Homo sapiens: one gene and its partners. The protein of the gene in region 3 interacts with the protein of the main gene of each other region in a pairwise test. Each region holds a gene or a part of one and is shown on either strand. Other genes may lie near its edges.

Evidence for each region.
Region 1: the proteins of JADE2 (region 3) and ZBTB5 interact in a two-hybrid assay, tested with the Homo sapiens proteins (one large-scale study listed by BioGRID and IntAct).
Region 2: the proteins of JADE2 (region 3) and ZBTB3 interact in a two-hybrid assay, tested with the Homo sapiens proteins (one large-scale study listed by BioGRID).
Region 4: the proteins of JADE2 (region 3) and TTC3 interact in a two-hybrid assay, tested with the Homo sapiens proteins (one large-scale study listed by BioGRID and IntAct).
Region 5: the proteins of JADE2 (region 3) and ZNF496 interact in a two-hybrid assay, tested with the Homo sapiens proteins (one large-scale study listed by BioGRID and IntAct).
Region 6: the proteins of JADE2 (region 3) and SASH1 interact in a two-hybrid assay, tested with the Homo sapiens proteins (one large-scale study listed by BioGRID).

Annotation. Positions count from the first base shown.
Region 1 is NC_000009.12:37,437,602-37,441,450, reverse strand, and holds the end of ZBTB5 (zinc finger and BTB domain-containing protein 5), read left to right. Parts: coding exon 1-933; 3' UTR 934-3,349; downstream 3,350-3,849. UniProt on the Homo sapiens protein: May be involved in transcriptional regulation.
Region 2 is NC_000011.10:62,751,361-62,755,519, reverse strand, and holds the start of ZBTB3 (zinc finger and BTB domain-containing protein 3), read left to right. Parts: upstream 1-1,359; 5' UTR 1,360-1,556; intron 1,557-1,804; 5' UTR 1,805-1,855; coding exon 1,856-3,430; 3' UTR 3,431-4,159.
Region 3 is NC_000005.10:134,556,670-134,560,169, forward strand, and holds part of JADE2 (E3 ubiquitin-protein ligase Jade-2), read left to right. Parts: intron 1-3,160; coding exon 3,161-3,321; intron 3,322-3,500. UniProt on the Homo sapiens protein: Scaffold subunit of some HBO1 complexes, which have a histone H4 acetyltransferase activity. Acts as an E3 ubiquitin-protein ligase mediating the ubiquitination and subsequent proteasomal degradation of target protein histone demethylase KDM1A.
Region 4 is NC_000021.9:37,160,254-37,163,753, forward strand, and holds part of TTC3 (E3 ubiquitin-protein ligase TTC3), read left to right. Parts: intron 1-548; coding exon 549-605; intron 606-1,736; coding exon 1,737-1,810; intron 1,811-3,500. UniProt on the Homo sapiens protein: E3 ubiquitin-protein ligase which catalyzes the formation of 'Lys-48'-polyubiquitin chains. Mediates the ubiquitination and subsequent degradation of phosphorylated Akt (AKT1, AKT2 and AKT3) in the nucleus.
Region 5 is NC_000001.11:247,307,868-247,311,367, forward strand, and holds part of ZNF496 (zinc finger protein 496), read right to left. Parts: intron 2,590-3,500; coding exon 2,457-2,589; intron 1,940-2,456; coding exon 1,832-1,939; intron 722-1,831; coding exon 608-721; intron 161-607; coding exon of another isoform or gene 6-160; exon of another isoform or gene 1-5. UniProt on the Homo sapiens protein: DNA-binding transcription factor that can both act as an activator and a repressor.
Region 6 is NC_000006.12:148,545,338-148,548,837, reverse strand, and holds part of SASH1 (SAM and SH3 domain-containing protein 1), read right to left. Parts: intron 2,824-3,500; coding exon 2,692-2,823; intron 544-2,691; coding exon 280-543; 3' UTR 1-279. UniProt on the Homo sapiens protein: Is a positive regulator of NF-kappa-B signaling downstream of TLR4 activation. It acts as a scaffold molecule to assemble a molecular complex that includes TRAF6, MAP3K7, CHUK and IKBKB, thereby facilitating NF-kappa-B signaling activation.

The DNA of each region.
Region 1 (3,849 bases), on a different chromosome or scaffold from region 3:
ATAGACCTCAGCCCTGAAAGCAGTGATCGGAGTTTTTCAGATCCCCAGTCTAGCACAGACAGGGTAGGTGATATCCATATTTTGGAAGTCACAAATAACCTAGAGCATAAGTCCACTTTTAGTATTTCGAATTTTCTTAACAAGAGCAGAGGAAATAACTTTACTGCAAATCAGAACAATGATGATAATATTCCAAACACCACTAGTGACTGCAGGCTGGAGAGTGAGGCCCCCTATTTGTTGAGTCCAGAGGCTGGGCCTGCAGGTGGGCCCTCCTCTGCCCCTGGCTCCCATGTAGAGAACCCATTTAGTGAACCTGCAGACTCCCACTTCGTCAGGCCTATGCAGGAGGTGATGGGCCTGCCGTGTGTGCAGACTTCAGGCTACCAAGGAGGAGAACAGTTTGGGATGGACTTTTCCAGGTCTGGTTTGGGCCTCCACTCCTCCTTCTCCAGGGTAATGATAGGTTCCCCAAGGGGAGGAGCCAGTAACTTTCCTTACTACCGCCGCATAGCTCCCAAAATGCCAGTTGTAACTTCCGTCAGGAGCTCACAGATCCCAGAAAACTCTACCAGTTCTCAGCTAATGATGAATGGAGCTACGTCCTCATTTGAAAATGGCCATCCTTCCCAGCCTGGCCCTCCACAGTTGACCAGGGCATCTGCAGATGTTCTGTCAAAGTGCAAGAAGGCCTTATCAGAGCACAATGTTTTGGTTGTAGAGGGAGCTCGCAAGTATGCCTGCAAAATCTGCTGCAAAACTTTTCTGACTTTGACAGATTGCAAGAAGCACATCCGTGTTCACACAGGTGAAAAGCCTTACGCCTGCCTGAAGTGTGGCAAGAGGTTTAGTCAGTCCAGCCACCTGTATAAGCACTCAAAGACTACCTGCCTGCGCTGGCAGAGCAGCAATCTTCCCAGCACTTTGCTCTAGCTGTTTGTCCTTACAAGACAACGCTGAGGCCAGTTGTCAGACTGAATTTCTTTTGGTAAGCAGTTAATGCCTTTGGGTTCGAGGCTTCCAGCTGCCCAGTGGCTCTTAAACAGTTTAGCAACTAATAACCGGAGAACTAACATGTAGTATTTGTGCTGCTGCATTTCTGAGTGAAGTGCACGTCTTGGGAAAGGGATGCAATCCCTGAAACCAGGTGCTTCCTTGGGGTTGAGTAATGCAGTCAGAAAGTAGTTTGTAATTGATATTAAAAGTGGCACATTTAAAAATTTAAAAATTGAAGTGCAAAAAAAATTTTTTAGCAATTTTTGTAAAACTGTGTAGCATTTAAATTTCCTATACCTTCTGATGGGAGTATTATATCCCTGTATAGTGATGCAAAATGCACTTATGTGTAACCAGTGGTGATTTGGTGCCTGTCTTAAAGGAAGGCCTTTGAGGACACACCTGTCTGCCACAAATGCTTTAAAGTGTATCATGAGCTAGTCCTAGGCCTCAAAGTACTGTATTTTTTATTTTTACCTGATTTGCAGTCATAAACACTGCACTTTGGTGCTGACACTGGGTCCAGAGTGAGCATTCTCTTGGACTATTAGATGTATATACTTTTGAATACATCACTGTTGGATAGATGTTTTAACAGTTTTTTCTGGTTTAAAAACCAAATTGTAAATGGAGTGTGTACTTGTAGAGAGTGACAAGGTATTGTTTCCCTATGTGCTGTTTGAGCAGTATTTTAACCAACTTGTATTACAGATGTTACAGTTCCATGTTAGGAAGTCAGAAAAGACTTGTGTTTGTCTTTGTTCTGCTGATGTGGAGTCATGTTTTGTGGGGTCTTCCATGGCACATTTACCTGTTGCTCCGTCCAGATGTTGAGGGCCAGTCTAGGCTGACACATCCTACCCGAGGACAAGCCTGTTCTCCATTTCTTCACTCTCCCCTCCCCATATAGCAACTCTCCCAGGTTTAGATTACCGTTTTCGACGACAGATTAACCAAAAATGCCCCACACAGGTTTTATTACTGTTATATACTATACTTTTAACAGTACAGACCCTAAATTTTATTATTTGTTGCTCCCCCAATCTGATACCAAATGTTTAAAGTTGTTTGAAATCCAAACATGGTAGTGTTCATGGGTAAATATTTTCTAGGCTATGTAAGAGTTAGCAGCCCATAGCATAGAAGTAATCAAGTAGCATCTGAGACTGTTGGAGGCACTAGGGCCTCTCTGGGCCCTACAGCCTCACTTCCCCAGCCTCACCTTGCTGTCCTCTGACACTGCCATCAGGGCTGTTAGTGGCACCTGTATGAGGCCAAGTGTGCGTCCAGGGGAACAGCACAGGTTAATGCGTCTCCCTAGAACTCATGAAGTCAGTTTAATTCATGCATGAACATGAGTTCATTTTATGTTTTATATAGCTTTCTTAGACATACCAAACCATCATTCATAAATCAGATAAATTATTCAGTTTTTGTGTTTAGAAAGCTAAGTATGTGTAGCTGGAAACAAAAATGAGCGTGTTTTCTCTCCTGTTAATCTAGAGTGTGCAGTTACACATGTGTGGATAATTTCATGTTCCAGGGGCGCTTGGCATCTCCCATGGACTGATTCCCAGGAAGAAAAGCCCAAAGGGAAACCCACGATTCCTTTCGAGTAGATGTGGGAAAGAGCCCATTGGAGGATATGAGGTCCTGTGAAATTCAGTTGTGTGTGTGGCTCCTTGTTAGCAGTCATGTTGACATGGTGTTAGGAGGCTCCCCATCCACCCTTTACATGATGTAGGGACCAGTGTCTTGTGAGATTAACCTTGGGACACAGTGGGTTAGCCTGGAGAAAATGAGAGGCCCTGCCTGGACCCAGGGAGAGGAGCCAGTGACACAGGCAGAGCGGTGCAGCCCTCCTTCCCTTCCATTTGGAGGAGGTGGTGCCAGGAGCCTGCCCGCTTACCTCTGCTGAAGCATAAGTGGACTTTGCTTTTGGGGCTTATCTCTGATACATGCTGGAGCCCTGCCTCTCCACTGCTAGATGGAACCTGGAATCTCTCATCTACCTCTTAGTCTGTCAGTTTCTACGTGTGAGAAGCAAGCTTGTGGGCCAGTGTCCTTGTACATGCTGTAGCACTTAAAAAATAATTCCAGGGTTCCCTGGAAAACCAGTCCCAGGGTTCCTATGATCTGTAGTTTCTACCTGGATTATAACTGGTTTTGGGTACCTGAATTTTGATTGGTTAGCCTTAATTATAGTCTGGCGTGATCATGTAGAATCTTTTCTGGTGAACAGATCATAAAGTTCTATCAAGGAGTTCTATCAAGGCATCCATGTCAGTGGTGCTATGCTGGTTACAACTTGAGATTTTTGAAATAAAAAATTTGTCATATTCATGCCTCTAAATATGTGTTCTTTTTCTTTACGTTATTAAGGTTGAAACCAAAGAGGGTAATATCTCTTTGCCAGCCCTTCTTTGACTAGTACTTTGTTTTAAACCAAACCTTCTATTAACAGTTAATTGGTCGTTCCTCTCAAATCATTCCCTTCTGCCTTCCCCCGCCTTTTCTGTCTTTGAGCTACGCACATGCATGAGATTTTGCTTTTCAGTCTACCCAGTTGCTCTCTGAGGGCCTGCGTAATCTTGTGCTGCTCCCTGGACCTGCCTCCCAAGTTGGAAACTCCATCTGCCAGTTTGGCTTGGCTGCTGGGAAGAGCTGGAAGCTGATTCCTTGAGCACAGAGCAAGGCATTGGCAATGGCAGTGCTGTGGCCTGACCTTGGAGAGAAGTGGGTAAGGTGGTGATTAAAAAAAAAAAAAATCCACCTGGGGGCAGGGAGGGGCTGGGGGGACAGAATGGGCAAAGGGAACAATATGTGTAGGTGCTGAAACTAATTTTAAAATTA
Region 2 (4,159 bases), on a different chromosome or scaffold from region 3:
GACTCTCAAAGATTTCTTCAGTAGACACGGTTTTTGCTTCTTCTCTCCTGTCCTGGGACATTTTATGATCCTGACCCCATTCTTACCCTTCCTACCAGCACCTGCTCAGCACGCTCTGGAAACAAAGAACACTCTATCCTCTCACTGTAAATTGACTGTAGAGTCCAGGCTAGGGACACCACGACATCATCCCTGTAGCTGCTAGTTCTTTCATGCCATCACTGAGCCGGGAGCCCCGGAAACTTAGCTTGGAGGAGTGGAGCAGTAGGGCATCTTAAAATGTTTTTTTGTTTGTTTGTTTTAGATGGAGTTTTGCTCTGTCTCCCAGGCTGGAGTGCAGTGGCGCTATCTTGGCTCACTGCAACCTCTGCCTCCTGGGTTCAAGAGATTCTCCTGCCTCAGCCTCCCTAGAAGCTGGGATTTCAGGCACGCGCCACCATGCCCAGCTGATTTTTGTATTTTTAGTAGAGATGGGGTTTCACTATGTTGGCCAGGCTGCTCTTGAACTCCGGACCTCAAGTGATCTGCCCGTCTCAGCCTCCCAAACTGCTGGGATTAAAGGCGTGAGCCACCGAACCCGGCAAATCTTAGAATTTTTGAGAGGAAGGGACCTTCAAGAGACAAACGCAGTTCAGGGACGTGGGGCTATTGCCCACAGTCACCAGTTGGTTCTCTTTTTTTGGGGGGGTGGGGGGATAGGGTCTTACTCTGTCGCCCAGGCTGGAGTGCAGTGGCACGATCTTGACTCACTGCAACCTCCGCCTCCCGGGTTCAAGTGATTCTCCTGCTTCAGCCTCCCCAGTAGCTGGGATTACAGGCGCGCGCCCCCAAGACCTGCTAATTTTTGTATTTTTAGTAGAGACGGGGTTTCAGCATGTTGGCCAGGCTGGTATCGAACTCCTGACCCCAAGTGATCCGCCCTCCTCGGCCTCCCAGAGTCCTGGGATTACAGGCGTGAAGCACTGCGCCTGGCCTAGTTGGTTCTCTTTTTCCCTGTCAGCCTGTAGCGGGAGTGGCTTGCTGTCAGCTCGGGTCCGACACTGCAGGGTTCCCGACCTCCAGCCTCGCCAGGAGAGCGCCGCGTTCAGCGACTCGGAGCCGGGTACCTCCTGCCTGCTGGATTAGGTAGAAGGAGAAGCTCAGCCAATCCTGAGGGCTCGGAGGCAAGGAAGGCGGGACGAAGAGGAAAAGTTGAGGACAGGAGCGTCACCCAATCCAACGCCTGACTGCAAAAGCGATGGCGGCGAGCACCCAATTGTAGACGGCAGTTAGAGGGAGGATGGTTAGTGGAGAGCGGACCAATCCGTGACAGGGGAGGGCAATCTTAAGCCAATTAAAGCTGAGAAGGTGGGAAGGGGCGGAGCTCGCCCTGTGGCTGCTCGGTGGTGGGTGAGGTATCAGCTTTCTCCGCTAGTTCCCACCCTGGTAGTCCTTAGCCCCTGGAATGCGTGAGGGAGATGCTTAGGGAGTTCTCGAAGTGGGGCGTAGAGGCATCGCCTGGCAAGGCCTGGGAGCGAAAAAGATCTCTACTTCGTGGAGCCGTTGGACGCTACCGGGTGGGCATCAAGGAAGCGGAGGGTGGCTAAGGGGCGGGACTTCCGGGGGCAGGGCTTATCGGACGGGGGTGGGGCCTGTTCTAAGGTTAGGCCGAGGTGGGCGGAGCTAATGGGAGAGCTTTGGGTGTGACCTAGGAGAAAGAAGGGCAGTAACTTAAGCGATTGTTTTGGAGTGGCAAGTGATAGTTAAGGGCTGATAAGGTTGCTGGGGAGGTTACCTGTCTTAACTCACTGCCCTTTTTTCTCAGGGAGCCACTGGTGGGGACCTTTTTTGGGCCCCCTTTCCTTCGTGGGGTACTATGGAGTTCCCAGAACACAGTCAGCAGCTGCTGCAGAGCCTCCGGGAGCAGCGGTCCCAGGGTTTCCTTTGTGACTGCACCGTGATGGTGGGTAGTACCCAGTTCTTGGCCCATCGGGCTGTGCTGGCCTCCTGCAGCCCATTCTTCCAGCTTTTCTACAAGGAGCGGGAATTGGACAAGAGGGATCTGGTGTGTATTCACAATGAAATTGTCACAGCCCCAGCCTTTGGGCTGCTTCTGGACTTTATGTATGCTGGCCAGCTGACCCTGAGAGGGGATACCCCTGTGGAGGATGTGCTGGCAGCTGCCAGCTACTTGCACATGAATGACATCGTCAAGGTGTGTAAGCGGCGGCTTCAAGCCCGGGCCCTGGCAGAGGCAGACAGTACCAAGAAGGAGGAGGAAACCAACTCACAGCTTCCTAGTTTGGAGTTTTTGTCTAGTACTTCCCGTGGCACCCAACCTTCGTTGGCATCTGCTGAGACATCAGGCCACTGGGGCAAAGGGGAATGGAAAGGCTCTGCTGCTCCCTCACCTACTGTCCGTCCTCCAGATGAGCCACCAATGTCTAGTGGGGCTGACACTACACAGCCTGGCATGGAGGTTGACGCACCACATCTGCGGGCACCTCATCCACCAGTGGCTGATGTCTCTCTTGCCAGCCCTAGTAGCTCCACTGAGACCATTCCTACAAACTACTTCTCTTCTGGCATCTCAGCAGTTTCATTGGAGCCACTGCCATCTCTTGATGTGGGTCCTGAGAGTCTGAGGGTGGTGGAACCAAAGGATCCTGGAGGACCACTGCAAGGCTTCTATCCCCCAGCCTCAGCCCCAACGTCAGCCCCAGCCCCTGTCTCAGCTCCAGTTCCATCCCAGGCTCCAGCCCCAGCTGAAGCTGAGCTGGTCCAGGTGAAAGTTGAAGCTATTGTGATCTCTGATGAAGAGACTGATGTGTCAGATGAACAGCCTCAGGGTCCTGAGAGAGCTTTCCCATCTGGAGGAGCAGTGTATGGGGCACAGCCCTCCCAGCCAGAGGCTTTTGAAGACCCAGGGGCAGCAGGACTGGAGGAGGTGGGGCCAAGTGACCACTTCCTGCCAACAGACCCTCATCTACCCTACCATCTGCTGCCAGGTGCAGGGCAGTATCATCGAGGACTGGTGACCTCACCTCTGCCTGCACCCGCATCCCTGCATGAGCCACTTTACCTGTCTTCTGAGTACGAAGCAGCTCCAGGAAGCTTTGGGGTTTTTACTGAGGATGTTCCCACCTGCAAGACATGTGGGAAGACCTTCTCATGCTCTTACACACTACGGCGACATGCCACGGTGCACACACGTGAGCGACCCTATGAGTGCCGCTACTGCCTGCGGAGCTACACGCAGTCAGGGGACCTCTACCGCCACATCCGCAAGGCTCACAATGAGGACCTGGCCAAACGCAGCAAACCAGATCCAGAAGTGGGACCCCTTCTAGGGGTGCAGCCTCTCCCTGGCTCCCCAACAGCAGACAGACAGAGCAGCAGTGGTGGAGGGCCACCTAAAGATTTTGTATTGGCCCCAAAAACTAACATCTAAGGGAGCATGAGCTGATGCTAGGCTGCTCTTACCATCCTTAGATGGCAGCTCAGAAGGTTGGTGGCACCTTATCACCCCTGCTGGGTGACAAGAATAAAGGCTCTGCCCAGGCTGAAAGTTCCTACCCTTTTTTTTTTTTAATCTTTTATTTTTTTGAGACAGAGTCTCACTCTGTCACCCAGACTGGAGTGCAGTGGCGCGATCTCGGCTCACTGCAAGCTCAGCCTCCCCGATTCACGCCATTCTCCTGCCTCAGCCTCCCGAGTAGCTGGGACTACAGGCGCCTATCACCATGCCTGGCTAATTTTTTTTGATTTTTAGTAGAGACAGGGTTTCACCGTGTTAGCCAGGATGGTCTCGATCTTCTGACAGATCTGACCTCGTGATCCGCCCATCTCCACCTCCCGCAGTGCTGGGATTACAGGCATGAGCCACCGCGCCCAGCTGCCTTTTTTTTTTTGAGTCTTGCTCTGTCACTGAGGCTGGAGTGCAGTGGCGCAATTTCAGCTCACTGCAACCTCTGCCTCCCAGGTTCAAGCGATTCCTTTTTTTTTTTTTTTTTTTGAGACAGAGTCTCACTCTGTCCCCCAGGCTGGAGTGCAGTGGCGCGATCTTGGCCCACCACGCCCGCCTAATTTTTTGTATTTTTTAGTAGAGACGGGGTTTCACCGTGTTAGTCAGGATGGTCTCGATCTCCTGACCTCGTGATCCACCCGCCTCAGCCTCCCA
Region 3 (3,500 bases):
ACATGCACACACACACACATCACACAACACATACACACCACACACACACCTCACACATCACACAAAACACACCCCACACATACCACATGCACACGCACGCACACCACACACACACCTCACACATCACACAAAACACACTCCACACATACCACATGCACACACACACATCACACAGCACATACACGCACACACCACACACACCTCACACATCACACAAAACACACCCCACACATACCACATGCACACACACACATCACACAGCACACAACACATACACACACACCACACACACACCTCACACATCACACAAAACACACCCCACACATACCACATGCACACACACACATCACACAGCACATACACACACACCACACACACACCTCACACATCACATAAAACACACACACACCACACAAACACACACACACACACAGTGATTACTGTGTGTCAGGCATTTTCCTAAGAGTTTTGCAAACTTAATCCATTTAATCCTCTCACCAACCACATAAAGTAGGTATTATTATTGTTGTTATTATGATGATGATGATGATGATTATTATTTTTTTTGTTGTTGTTGTTTTCAAGCTTTTATTTTTTTATTTTTTTTTTTATTTTTTTTTTTTTCAGACAGAACCCATGCTCTTTATTAGATTATGTTGCCTATGTTTAAAAGTGTTCAAATTCAGTCTTTTACATTGAAAATAACTTTTTTTTTTTTTTTTAATTATACTCTAAGTTTTAGGGTACATGTGCACATTGTGCAGGTTTGTTACATATGTATACATGTGCCATGCTGGCGCGCTGCACCCACTAATGTGTCATCTAGCATTAGGTATATCTCCCAATGCTATCCCTCCCCCCTCCCCCGAACCCACCACAGTCCCCAGAGTGTGATATTCCCCTTCCTGTGTCCATGTGATCTCATTGTTCAATTCCCACCTATGAGTGAGAATATGCGGTGTTTGGTTTTTTGTTCTTGCGATAGTTTACTGAGAATGATGGTTTCCAATTTCATCTATGTCCCTACAAAGGATATGAACTCATCATTTTTTATGGCTGCATAGTATTCCATGGTGTATATGTGCCACATTTTCTTAATCCAGTCTATCATTGTTGGACATTTGGGTTGGTTCCAAGTCTTTGCTATTGTGAATAGTGCCGCAATAAACATACGTGTGCATGTGTCTTTATAGCAGCATGATTTATAGTCCTTTGGGTATATACCCAGTAATGGGATGGCTGGGTCAAATGGTATTTCTAGTTCTAGATCCCTGAGGAATCGCCACACTGACTTCCACAATGGTTGAACTAGTTTACAGTCCCACCAACAGTGTAAAAGTGTTCCTATTTCTCCACATCCTCTCCAGCACCTGTTGTTTCCTGACTTTTTAATGATTGCCATTCTAACTGGTGTGAGATGATATCTCATAGTGGTTTTGATTTGCATTTCTCTGATGGCCAGTGATGATGAGCATTTCTTCATGTGTTTTTTGGCTGCATAAATGTCTTCTTTTGAGAAGTGTCTGTTCATGTCCTTCGCCCACTTTTTGATGGGGTTGTTTGTTTTTTTCTTGTAAATTTGGTTGAGTTCATTGTAGATTCTGGATATTAGCCCTTTGTCAGATGAGTAGGTTGCGAAAATTTTCTCCCATGTTGTAGGTTGCCTGTTCACTCTCATGGTAGTTTCTTTTGCTGTGCAGAAGCTCTTTAGTTTAATTAGATCCCATTTGTCAATTTTGGCTTTTGTTGCCATTGCTTTTGGTGTTTTGGACATGAAGTCCTTGCCCACGCCTATGTCCTGAATGGTAATGCCTAGGTTTTCTTCTAGGGTTTTTATGGTTTTAGGTCTAACGTTTAAATCTTTAATCCAGATGATGATGATTATTGAGACGGAGCTTCGCTCTTGTTGCCCAGGCTGGAGTGCAGTGGCACGATCTCTGCTCACCACAGCCTCCGCCTCCCGGGTTCAAGCAATTCTTCTGCCTCAGCCTCCTAAGTAGCTGGGATTACAGGCATACACCACCACGCCTGGGTAATTTTGTATTTTTAGTAGAGATGGGGTTTCCTCATGTTGGTCAGGCTGGTCTCGAACTCCTCATCACAGGTGATTCACCCGCCTTGGACTCCCAAAATGCTGGGATTACAGGCATGAGCCACCACGCCCAGCCTGGTACTATTATTATTAACCCATTTTGGGGGATGGGAACACTGGGGCCCAGAGAAGTTTAGTGGCTTCCCCAGAGTCACACAATAAGTGGTGAAGCTGGGCTTTGAGTCCACACCCTGCGGGCAGGCCTCTCCAAGCTGCCTCAGCGGCAGAGCTGTGGCCACAAAGGAAGGCTGAGCTGGGGAGGGATCCTGGGACTGCAGCAGGCACATCTTTGTATCCAAGGGATTTGGCCTCTGTCTTGGTCCTGGGGCCGGGTAACACTGTGTAGCAGGACACTCACTGCTCACATGACATTGTATCTGGGAGAAGGGCAGGGTGGCATGTGGACCTTTTGTCTGGAAAGGGTCACCCTGGGCCGCAGCCGTGTAACCAGGTAGGGCTCCTCCTGACACCAGAGGAGACGTGGCCTCAGTTCTACTCAAGTCAATGGAGTTTTCAGGCTGTTGGTAAGAAGGGGGCTTGGGCTTCTGAGAGTACGTAGACAACCCCTGCCTTGTCCGCAGCCTTGAAGGGTATGCCGAAGGACCTAGAATCCAGCTGGCACTACCTCACTTGTTGCTGGCACAGGGCATTGCCCATGATGGCACATAGGATACCTCTTACAGGCCCTAGCAGTGTTAGATCCAAACTGCTGGGCTTTAGCTAAGGCCCCGCTACCCTGATGGCAGGAAGTGGGATGAGCTCTGGGCAGGTGGATGTTTATAGGGTAAGCAAGGCTGCGGATCAGCCCTGACTCCCATCCCCCACTGTGCCCTACTGCCCTTTGGGTTTTCTGTGTACTGCCTGTTCACCCACAGTCATCTGAGTCTCTGCAGGGTGGGCAGATGGTGGAGGAGGAAGTGAAGGAGGGGGTGGAAGGAGGTGGGCCCTGTGTGGTGTCAAAGCACACTTGTCCATCAGCTCCTGAGCTGGACTGGTCAGCTCCCTGGAGCCCCTATGGCGGCAGGCTGAGGGCCCCTCCCTTCATGACATCCTGTCTTGATTTTCTAGGATCCTCCCACCACTGGAAGGCCCCCCTGCCCAGGCATCCCCGAGCAGCACCATGCTTGGTGAGGGCTCCCAGCCTGATTGGCCAGGGGGCAGCCGCTATGACTTGGACGAGATTGATGCCTACTGGCTGGAGCTCATCAACTCGGAGCTTAAGGAGATGGGTAGGTGACCACTGCATTAAGAATGGGATCACGGCTGGGCAGGGAGGGTTTTCTCCCCATCCCGAGAGGGACAGTGGCCCAGGCAGGGCTATGGTATGGCATGGATCTGGAGGGAGTCTCCATACTGCATTACTGAATGGGGACCTCACTGGTTAGTGTCTCTGTGCCACCTGAAGTTT
Region 4 (3,500 bases), on a different chromosome or scaffold from region 3:
GGCAGTTTTCAAAGAGAAAAATGCCTGTTTACTGATTTTCAGGAGCAAATCATCTATCTATATGAAATTTTGTCTTAATCTGCTCCATCAAATATTGCCCAGCTAAGCAGGGAAACACAGCTGAAATACTCCATAAGGAGCTGAAGGCTTCTTTATTCACTGTTTGTGCCCCAGTGTCTGGTCAGGTGCAGAATGTCTAGTTTGGCTTAGTAAAAGAAATATATTAATAATAAATTTACTATTATGGCATCTAACTGGAATTACTTAAAAGTCTGATTAATTACTTGAAATAACAGTCCAACCCTGTGGAAAATAAGATAAAAATGTTGGAACAACTTAATTTTAGTATACATTAGTATTATTAAATTTTGTTTGTTTTCTATTATAAATCGTAGCACTTGGGCTGATACACTGTAGTGTTATTTTTGTTAAACATTTTATGTACATTTAACTTATGGCTAGTCTGTAAAAACTCATATGGTTTCTTTATGTTGAGCTTCATAATGCTGTTATTTGAGTGTTCACTGATTTTTCCCCCCATTTTTTAGTTTAGTTCAACCAAGGTGAAAAACAAAAGCAAGAAAAAGAAGCCAAAGGATTCAAAGGTATGGAGTATTTTCTGTATTAATTCTTGTCTAAACTCTCCAAAATAGTTAGTTGGACATATACATTAGAATTGAGCAATTCTTGGGATATTTTGAAACATTTGTAGAGAAAGACTTTCTAGGACTTAAAGATGTTTTGGCAGTCTTCTACATTTTGAAGAAATTCCAGGTTCATATTATATAATAGCAAGTCTTGACACTCGTATTCTTTATTGTCTTTTTTATTTTTCTAGGTATTTCTGAGTAAAAAAAAAAAATTGTCATAATGTCCCAAAAAATAAATAAGTCTCAAAAAATAGATAACATATTTAAACTAAAAATGATGAATACTAATCATTATGACAGTCCCAGGATTGATAGAATCCCTTCCTTCCTCTCACCAAAGGCTCTCCTCCAAGCCCATTAGATAAGTAGGGCATTTTTATTTTTATTTTTGAGACAGGGTCTCCTTCTCTCACCCAGGCTGGAGAGCAGTGGTACAGTGACGGCTCACTGCAGCCTCAAACTCCCAGGCTCAAGTGATCTTCCCACCTCAGCCTCCCGAGTAGCCGGAATGACAGGCGCATGCCACCATGCCCAGCTAATTTTTTGTATTTTTTGGAGAGATGGGGTTTTGCTATATTGCCCAGGCTGTTCTAGAACTCCTGCGTTCAAGCGATCTGCCTACTTTGGCCTTACAGGCGTGAGCCACTGTGCCAGAAGTAGGGCACAATTTTTAAGTCTTTGGTGGGTTCTTCATGGCTCTTGTGTGTATGTGGGGAGCAGAAAGGGGGATGGAGTGAGAGAGAGTAGCAAATCTTCAAAGGATGAGAACAGTTAAGGAGTTCCAATACAACTTTTATTTTTATCTTTGACTATGTATTTAGTTTAGATAAAATGGGAGTTTAAACTGAGTAACATTTAAATTTTTTTGGAGCATTGGAAACTATCCTAAATGTTAATTTGAGCTTATTTTTGGCTGTTGAAACTTTTATTACTATGTGTTCCTGTTTATAAGAAAATTTGGATAGATCTTATATATCAGCAATTTGTATGTGTGTTTATATAAGTATTCATCAATTTTAATGATTTTTCTCTTTAATGGAATTTTAAGGTAGAAAATCATTGTCATTTTTCTGTCTTTTAAACCAGCCTATGTTAGTTGGGTCTGGAACAACTTCAGTAACTTCAAATAATGAGATCATCACTTCAAGTGAAGACCATAGGTAAGTATAATTTTTAAATTTTTGCTTCATTTTAACTCAAATGTCTTTACTTAATAAGTTGTGTTAATTTAATATATATAAACTTGTGTTTTATTTCCCTAACTTTCCTTTCTAAAGCTGTGCATCTGACAACCTGATGTAATTCCATCTTGATTACATTTATATAGTGTGGCTAGAAGGCATTAAGAATTCATTCAAACTGTGTTAAAGTCACGACACTGGTGACATTCATTCACTAAGTACATATTGAGAACCTACCATGTGCAAGGCTCTGTGGGAAAATCATAGAAAAATGTCTAGAAATTATTCTTTAAAATAGTCAATAAAGAGAATGTCCTGTTAATACTTACTAGGCATTTTTGCCTGTAAGAGAGGAAGCTGTTTTGGGAGCTGTATATGATGTTATGTTTTCACCTTATATATTAGTGATTTTCAATGCCATCTGGTTGTCAAAACTGAGTTTTCAATAAACAAATATTTAAGAAATAAAACTAGTGAGTAGCAGTAACCTTTTTATATCATACTCCTTTATGAACCAAAAATGTACAACATGGTTTTTTTTTTCTCATTTCTTAAAGGAGCTATCAGAGCAGTTAAAAATTACGTGGTCATTTCATGGATTCTTTAAGTAGGGTAATTGTTTTAAGTTAAAATAATAGCCTGTCTTAGTCAGTTTGGGCTGCTATAACAATATACCATAAACTGGGAGGCTTACACACAGAAATTTATTTCTCACAGTTCTGGAGGCTGGGAAGTCCCAAGATCAAGGTACTGGCAGATTCAGTGTTTGGTGAGGGCCTGCTTTCTGGTTCATAGATGGTGCCTTTTTGCTGTGTTTTCTCATGGTGGAAGGGACAAGGCAACTCTCTGGGGCCTCTTTTATAAGGGCAATAAGTCCATTCATGGGGGTAGAGCCTAATTACCTCCCAAAGAATCCACATCCTAACACCATCACATTGGTGATTAGGTTTCAACATATGAGTTTTGCAGAAACACAAACATTCAGACCATAGCATAGCCTTTACTGAGATTAATTCTTATGTATCAGACATTGTTTTGGGGGTTTACATACATAAACTCTTTCAATCCACTTATCCTGCCTAGGAGGTAAGTGCTATTATATTCTGTCCAATGTACAGATAAGGAAACTCTGAGGCACAGTGCAGAGCGACTTGCCCAAGAACACAAAGCTTATAAATAGCAGAGCTGGGATTTAAGTCATGCAGCCTGGTTTTAGAGTCCACACTCAAACTACTACATCTTTTTAGAGTGCTAACATCTTACATTTAAAAAAAACTTTTGTTTAGATGGAGTTTCGCTCTTGTTGCCCAGGCTGGAGCGCAATGGCGTGATCTCAGCTCACTGCAACCTCCACTTCTTGGGTTCAAGCAATTCTCCTGCCTCAGCCTCCTGAGTAGCTGGGATTACAGCCATGCGCCATGACGCCTGGCTAATTTTGTATTTTTATTAGGGACGGGGTTTTTCCATGTTGATCAGGCTGATCTCGAACTCCTGACCTCAAGTGATCTGCCTGCCTTGGCCTCCCAAAGTGCTGGGATTACAGGCGTGAGCCACCACACCTGGCTTAAAAAAAACCTTTTATTAATACCATTTACCAGTCTCAGTCTCACTTTAAGTTAATTTATAGCAGTTATAATACAATCTTCATTTGTCTTTCAGTCATTTAACA
Region 5 (3,500 bases), on a different chromosome or scaffold from region 3:
GACTTTTACCAAGACGACTCAGAGTCTACACTGTGGCTATTTCTCTGAAAGCAGGAATGGAACATACACTTTCCAAGAGTCCTGTGCAGCTTCAGTATGCCAGAAACCTGCTCTTTAATCCCAGTTCCAAGATTCTGTGCCAGGATGCTGGCCATCCATGCTGAGAGAAGAAAAACACTCACTGCATCACCAACAGCACTACAGCAGCACCCTGCTTTGACACACCCTCCCCGGCCCCTGGGAAAGGCAAGGAGGGTGAGCCTGGGATTGGGAGTGAGCTGGAGAATGACCCCAGCACAACGGAATCAGGGCAAGCAGCTAAGAACACCACAGCAGAGGTCGGCGGGGATCCTGAGGGGTTCAGTTCCTAACTGTCCCATGCCATCACCACCGCACATTTACATCACACACCCACATGCCCCCAACACACAGGTGCACCCATGAATGCACACACTCACACATGCAGCACACCACATATACCACATGTGTATGCACGCACACATGCATTCAACACAACCATCCCCTATGCCACACATGCATACATACATTCATGCGACACACCACAGACACACAGGGACAAACCCATACCTCCCTGACCCTTCTTTACCTGGGTAGGTGTTTTGAGGCACCACCGTCTGTGGGCAGGCCTGGAACTCTGGCACCTGCAGCTCCTCACGTTTCCTTCTTTCTTCTACCTGGAATGGCTGGAGACTTGGAGAGTCTTTCCAGAGGAGGAAATGGAAAAATTGATTTGTTTTGCACCTACAGCACTACCTGGGAGGGTGCTATCCGAATAGATGCCAGGCTACGATCTGGGGGCGGCCCTGGGCTCCGTCCTGGGGACTGGCAGGGGGTGGCCACTCAATAAGTGTCTGCTGAGTGAATGAACCTGAAGGCAAAATGGGCCAACTCCACAAACATGAGCTCTGACGCTAGACAGAATCGACGTAGATCCGGGTTCTACTCCACCCACTCTATGGCCAGAGACAAGCACTTCCCCCAGCCCCATATTTATTCCCACTTTCTGTGGTGGGTTTTCTATAGTCATCACCACAGGCTCCTGCACACTCCGCACATCCTGCACAAACAGCTTGTGCAGAGCCTACAGGGTAGAGATGGTACAGGAGCTACTGCACCACACCAAGTCTCTGAACGCTTGTTCCAGGTGGGGATGGTGTGTCAAAACCTTGTCTGCTTCATGCCAGCTCTAGGTCCCAAAGGGGAAGAAGGTGTGGAGCTGCTGATGATTCTGTACAAAGCTATTTCCTCCTGAAGGAGCAGATGCTTCGAAGCACCATGGCATGGAGATCATGGGTGCAAGTGCTGGCGACACAGCCTGAAGGAGGGCTGGAAACTGCTGCTGCTGAGCCCCAGCACCTCCCCACACCCCAGTGTCCTCACAGCACCCCTGTACCAGGCAGATGGGAAGACTAGACAGGTGAGGCACCTCAAAGGGCTGCGCTCGGTGCCCAGTTAGGAGACACTCCCTCTGCAACTAGGCTTGTCATGAGTATCTGACTTCACTCCTGGAGGGGCTGCTGCATTGTCAGCACAAACCAGATGTTACTTACAGGCAGAGGAGAAAGACATTCCTATTATTTCCCAGTCCTTGGCCAAGGGAGTACAATTCCAATGCCTGGCAAAATTAAGATCCTCCATTCTTTCTATGAAAAGTCAGGGACAAGGCAAGACATGCAAGACCCACATAGAGTCTGGGGAAATGAAGAAGGCAATTAGGGGCCGCAGAGAGAAGCCAGAGAGTGGGCTCACCTCCGGCTGCCAGCAACCCTTCCCCCTACTCTGTCCACTCAGTTCTGGAATCATTACTCACCCAAGTAGGAGACCTGGGGCACTTCTTTGCCCTGGAGATCCTGCAACTCTGGAACGCGTGGCTCATTCTCCTCTCCCTGGGAGAGATCTGGCTGGGCAGCTAGGTCGTCTGTTCAAAGAAAAAGGCAGGGTACATGTTTATTAGTAATCTGATCCTGCAGCAACCAGGGCTGGTCCAGAAGAGAGAAGGCGGAGGGATGCCCAGCGGGCATGGCACCATCAGGGGCGAGAAGTGAAAAGGCCAGAGCTGGCAGTGCAGGGGCAGTGGGGGCAGCACACGCAGGGAGAGCTATGGGCTTGGGGGTCTCTCTGAGGCTTTCGGGTGTAAAGCAGACATAAAGGGACAAAACGGTAAGAACGATGGAAGAGAAATGGACATACAGCACATGTTCTATTTGGTTCTGATAAGCCTGATGTGGCGAGACAGCAGGTGATGGTCAATCGGACACACTGCCTGTAGGGCCGCTGTGTGCAAATGACCTCCTGTCCAGGTTGGGGGTGAACAGAGAGATCTGATGCAGGCCCCGCTTCCCTGATCCTATGGGACGAAGTTGACTCTTACTCCAAGTGAGAACTCCCCTGCCCAGTTCCCTGGTCTTGAGGTGTGGGGGGAAGTTAAGTCTTACTTGGAGGCATTGAGACCCCGTAATCCTCCCCAATGATGAACTCTCCATAGAAGCCAGTCTGGGCAGGATCTAGAAGGGACCAATCCTCTTCAGAGAAGCATAAAATCATGTCCTTGAATGGAGAAACCCGACTCTGAAAGCACAGGAGAACAGGGATGCCTCAGTCCGGGACGAGCTAGGTGTCTCAGTCTTAGTCCACTGAGGCTGTGACAACACAACGCTGTAGGACGGGCAGTTTCTATACAACAGAAATCTGTTCCTCACAGTTCTGGAGGCTGGACGTCCAAGATCAAGGTGCCAGCAGGCTGGGTGCCTGGTGAGGGCCCACTTCTTGGTCAAAAGACAGGTGTCTTCTGTGTCCTTACATGATGGAGAGGGCAAGGGAGTTCTCTGGGGCCTCTTTTAGGAGGGACTAATCCCACTCATGAGGACTTTGCCCTTGTTACCAGATCATCTCCCCAAAAGTCTCCACTTCCTAATACCATCATCTTGGGGATTACAATTTCAACACAAATTTTGGGGAGATATAAACACTGAAACCATAGCATTCTGCCCCTGGTTCCCCCAAATTCATATCCTTTTCACATGCCAAACAAATTCATTCTATCCCAATAACCCTCAAAGTCTTAATTCATTCCAGCATCAACTCAAAAGTCCGGAGTCCAACATCTCATTTAAATATCATCTAAATCAGTTACGGTTGAAACTCAAGGCACAATTCTACCTGACACAAAATTCTCTCCAGCTGTGAACCTGTGAAATGAAACAAGTTATGTGCCTTCCAAATAGTGGTGAGGCCGGCGCAGTGGCTCACACCTGTAATCCCAGCACCTTGGGAGGCCGAGGCAGGCAGATTACCTGAGGTCAGGAGTTTGAGACCAGCCTGGCCAATACGGTTAAACCTCATCTCTACCAAAAATACAAAAAGCAGCCAGGCGTGGTGGTGAGCACCTATAATCCCAGCTACTTGGGAGGCTGAGGCAGGAGAATCATTTGAACCCGGCAGGCGGAGTCTGCAGTGAGCTGAGATCATGCCACTGCACT
Region 6 (3,500 bases), on a different chromosome or scaffold from region 3:
CCAGTTGGCATCTTGGTTCTTTTGTCTTCTGAAAATAAAAATAAGTGCTTGTCTTGTCTTTGGGGGTCAAAGAGAACCGCACTAATTTATTTCCTCGAGGGGGCTTTTCTGGAGGAGAGGATCCTCAGTCCTGTGCCAAGGTTTCACGCTGTTTGGCCACACGCCAGGCCTTTCTTCTGGATCTGGTCTGCACGTCCAGAGATGATGGAGGAATTGCATCAGCATCATATGCACAGTGAAAGGGTGGCTCTTGTCCAGAGAGGCCCATTCCGGGCCTGGCTACATGGCCTCAGGGCCTGGCGGCAGTTTGAAGAGTCTGGCTGCAGATAGGAGCTTTCTTATGTGTCTCTCCTCTGTGATGCCGGCCTCCTGAAGGCAAGTGTGAGACAGAGAAGGCACTTGGCTCAGTGTGCTGAAGCCCGCGGTGGAGAGGGTGCCGGCGTACATGGGCAGACCGATGGAAATGAGCCAATCTGACACAGACGAAATGCACCCAGGAGAGACGGGCTTTCGGCAGATTTCCGTGAGTCCACCACTTGGAATCTGGATAAATTAAGAAAGAATATGATAGAAACGCTCCATGTGTCATCGAGGACTACTTCGCGTATGTCTAAAAGGAACAGCACTGAAATACTGCATTGCTAGACTATTATCAGAAAGCGACAATGCAATGAGTGTCAGAGATCAAGACTAGCAGGAAAAATTCTTCTCTAAGATGAAACAAATCTTTAAGGAAGAGTTCCACAAGGTTCTCGAAGGTGTTGGAATGAGGTCAAATCCCATTTATGTGTCCGAGTCTTCAAACTATAAGCATTTACATATTCTGCTATTTTGTTTCACTGTGGATATGCTCTTGACAAAGAGCCCTAAGGTAGTCTGAAGGGACAAATCTGGGTGATCGTGTGAAATGTAGCATTCAGTGGGTAGGGTTTTTATAAAGGAGACTTTCCACTGTATTTTGAATCTATGTTAACAACCAGAAAATTACATGTTTAGTCAATACAAGTTATGAAGAATTTAAAATACAATAATATCAAGGGTTGGCTGGAACAGGGAAGTGGACATTTAACCTTGACTACTGGGTATATAAAGGGCCTGCACCTTTCAGAAAGGTGATTTGCTAACGAGTATGAAAATCTTTGGGATTTTATACAATTTTGATGAAGCAAACCATCTTCCAGGAATATCTACTCAGAAATTAACCTTTAAAGTCTACAAAGATTTATTAACAAGGATGTTCTTCATTACATTATTTAAAATAAAAGGTTAGAAAAATCTAAATGTTTTAACTATGAGACTCACTACTAGAGTACACTGACCTACTAGAATACTTTGAAATACAATAGCCACCCCCCTGCTTATCCATGGTTTTGCTTTCTACAGCCTGAAAATATTAAATGGGAATTTCCAGAAATAAACAATTCATAAGTCTTATATTGCATGCCATTCTGAGTAGTCTGAAGAAATCTCACACCACCCAGCTCTGTCCCACCTGACAATCATCCCTTTGTCTAACAAATCCACGCTGCCTACACCACCAGCCCCGCAGTCACTTAGTAGCCCGTAGTCATCAGATCAACTGTTGCGGTAATGCAGTACTTGCATTCAAGTCACTCTTATTTGACCTTACAATGGCCCCCAAGTGCAAGAGTAACGATGCTGGCCATTCGCACGTGGCAAAGAGAAGCCCTTAAGTGCTTCCTTTAAGTAAAAAGGTGAGAGTTCTTGACTTAATAAGAAAAGAAAAAAAATTGTATGCTGAGGTTCCTAAGACCTACAGTGAAAACGAATCTTCTATCCATGAAATTGTGAAGGAAAAAGAAATTTGTGTATAATATATACAGGGTTTGGTACTCAGCAAGCTTTCAAGAGATCCACTTGGAGGTCTTGGACCATAATCCCTCATGGATAGGGGGAGACTACTGTATTGATGATATCAATTTTTTTTTTTTTAAGTAACAGGGAAACAGATTCATGATCTGATAATAGCCAACAATCAGGTTTCGGTACTATACATTTACGCATACATTACGCATGTGCAGAGAAATGACTAGACAGAGTTTTAATGGACAAGTAAAAATTGTGTGTATTTATGGTGTAAAACGTGGTGTGTTGATAAATGTACACATTGTGGAATGGCTAAATCAAGCTATTTGACATATGCATTACCTCATATACTATATTTTGTGGTGAGAACACTTAAGATCTGCTGTCCTAGCAATTTTCAAGTATACATTGTTATTAACTGTAGTCACCATGTTGAACAATAGATCTTTGGAAGTTATGCTTCTAACTGAAACTGTGTCATTCAGACGGATTTTATTTTATTTCTTAAGAGATGGGGTCTCACTATGTTGCCCAGGCCGGCATCAAAATTCTGGGCTCAAGCAATCCTCCTGCTTCTGCCTCCCAAGTAACTAGGATTACAGGTGTGCACTATCACGCCCAGCACTAGACGGATCTTTAAAAAGTTTTTCACAGTGTTGGGATTACGGATAATTTTCATTTTTTTTTTCTTTCTGAAAGTGTATTTTTAAACATTTCTAGGCTGACCACATATTACTTTCTCCCCAGCTGTCTCCTTTCCATAGCTACGCAAGCCCTTGCCTACTTGGCAGTTGTTAGTATGGTCATCACTAAGCGTGATCACTAAATGTGCCTCAGGAAGCTGGAGAACTGTGGGCTGCTCACCGCCATGCGGTGCTGCTTCCGAAGCTGCTTCACCCGGATCTGGTCCATGTTGGCGGCGACGTCCCGCTCGGGCTGATCCAAGTCCTCTGCGTATCTCTGCACCAGGGCTTCAGGAATCCCACAGCGGCCATGCTGCCAGGGAGAACAGGAATATGACATCAAGAGTCATAAGGATTTTGTTTTTCTTTCCCTAAGATACACCACATATAACGTAGGGTCTCACTGTCACTTAGACTGGAGTGCAGTGGTGTGATCATGGCTCACTGCAGCCTCAAACTCCTGGGCTCAAGCGATCTTCTCGCCTTGGCCTCCCAAAGTGTTGGGATTCCAGGCGTAAGCCACCACACCCAACCCAAAAGTTTGAATTTGAAATGAATATATTTTCTTTATTGGTCAGGATGAATGCTTTAGAGGGAATACTTTTACATCTTTATCTTAAAGTACTGATGAGCTCTAGGAAAATGTTCTGAAGCATAGTTAAGGCAGAACACAATTATTCCACATTTTTCAGGACAATGCCTTCGCCTCAATCAGATCATTTTGCAAAATACAACTCCTCTAATGTTACTGAAGAGAGTCTTCTAAACTGCAGGAGAGAAGGGCTAACTTCTGCTTTACAGATATTCAACTGTTTGCACTTTATCTGCTACAAGTGATACCACCAGCTCACTAGGCCAGCATTTACTGTATGGTCTTTCTCACTACCTTTCATTTAAAGACATTCACTCAGGAAATATCAAGGAGGGTCAGAGAGGTGGAGGAGGATCTGATTCTAAGGCATTCATTGTCATGAGAATTTTATAATAAAG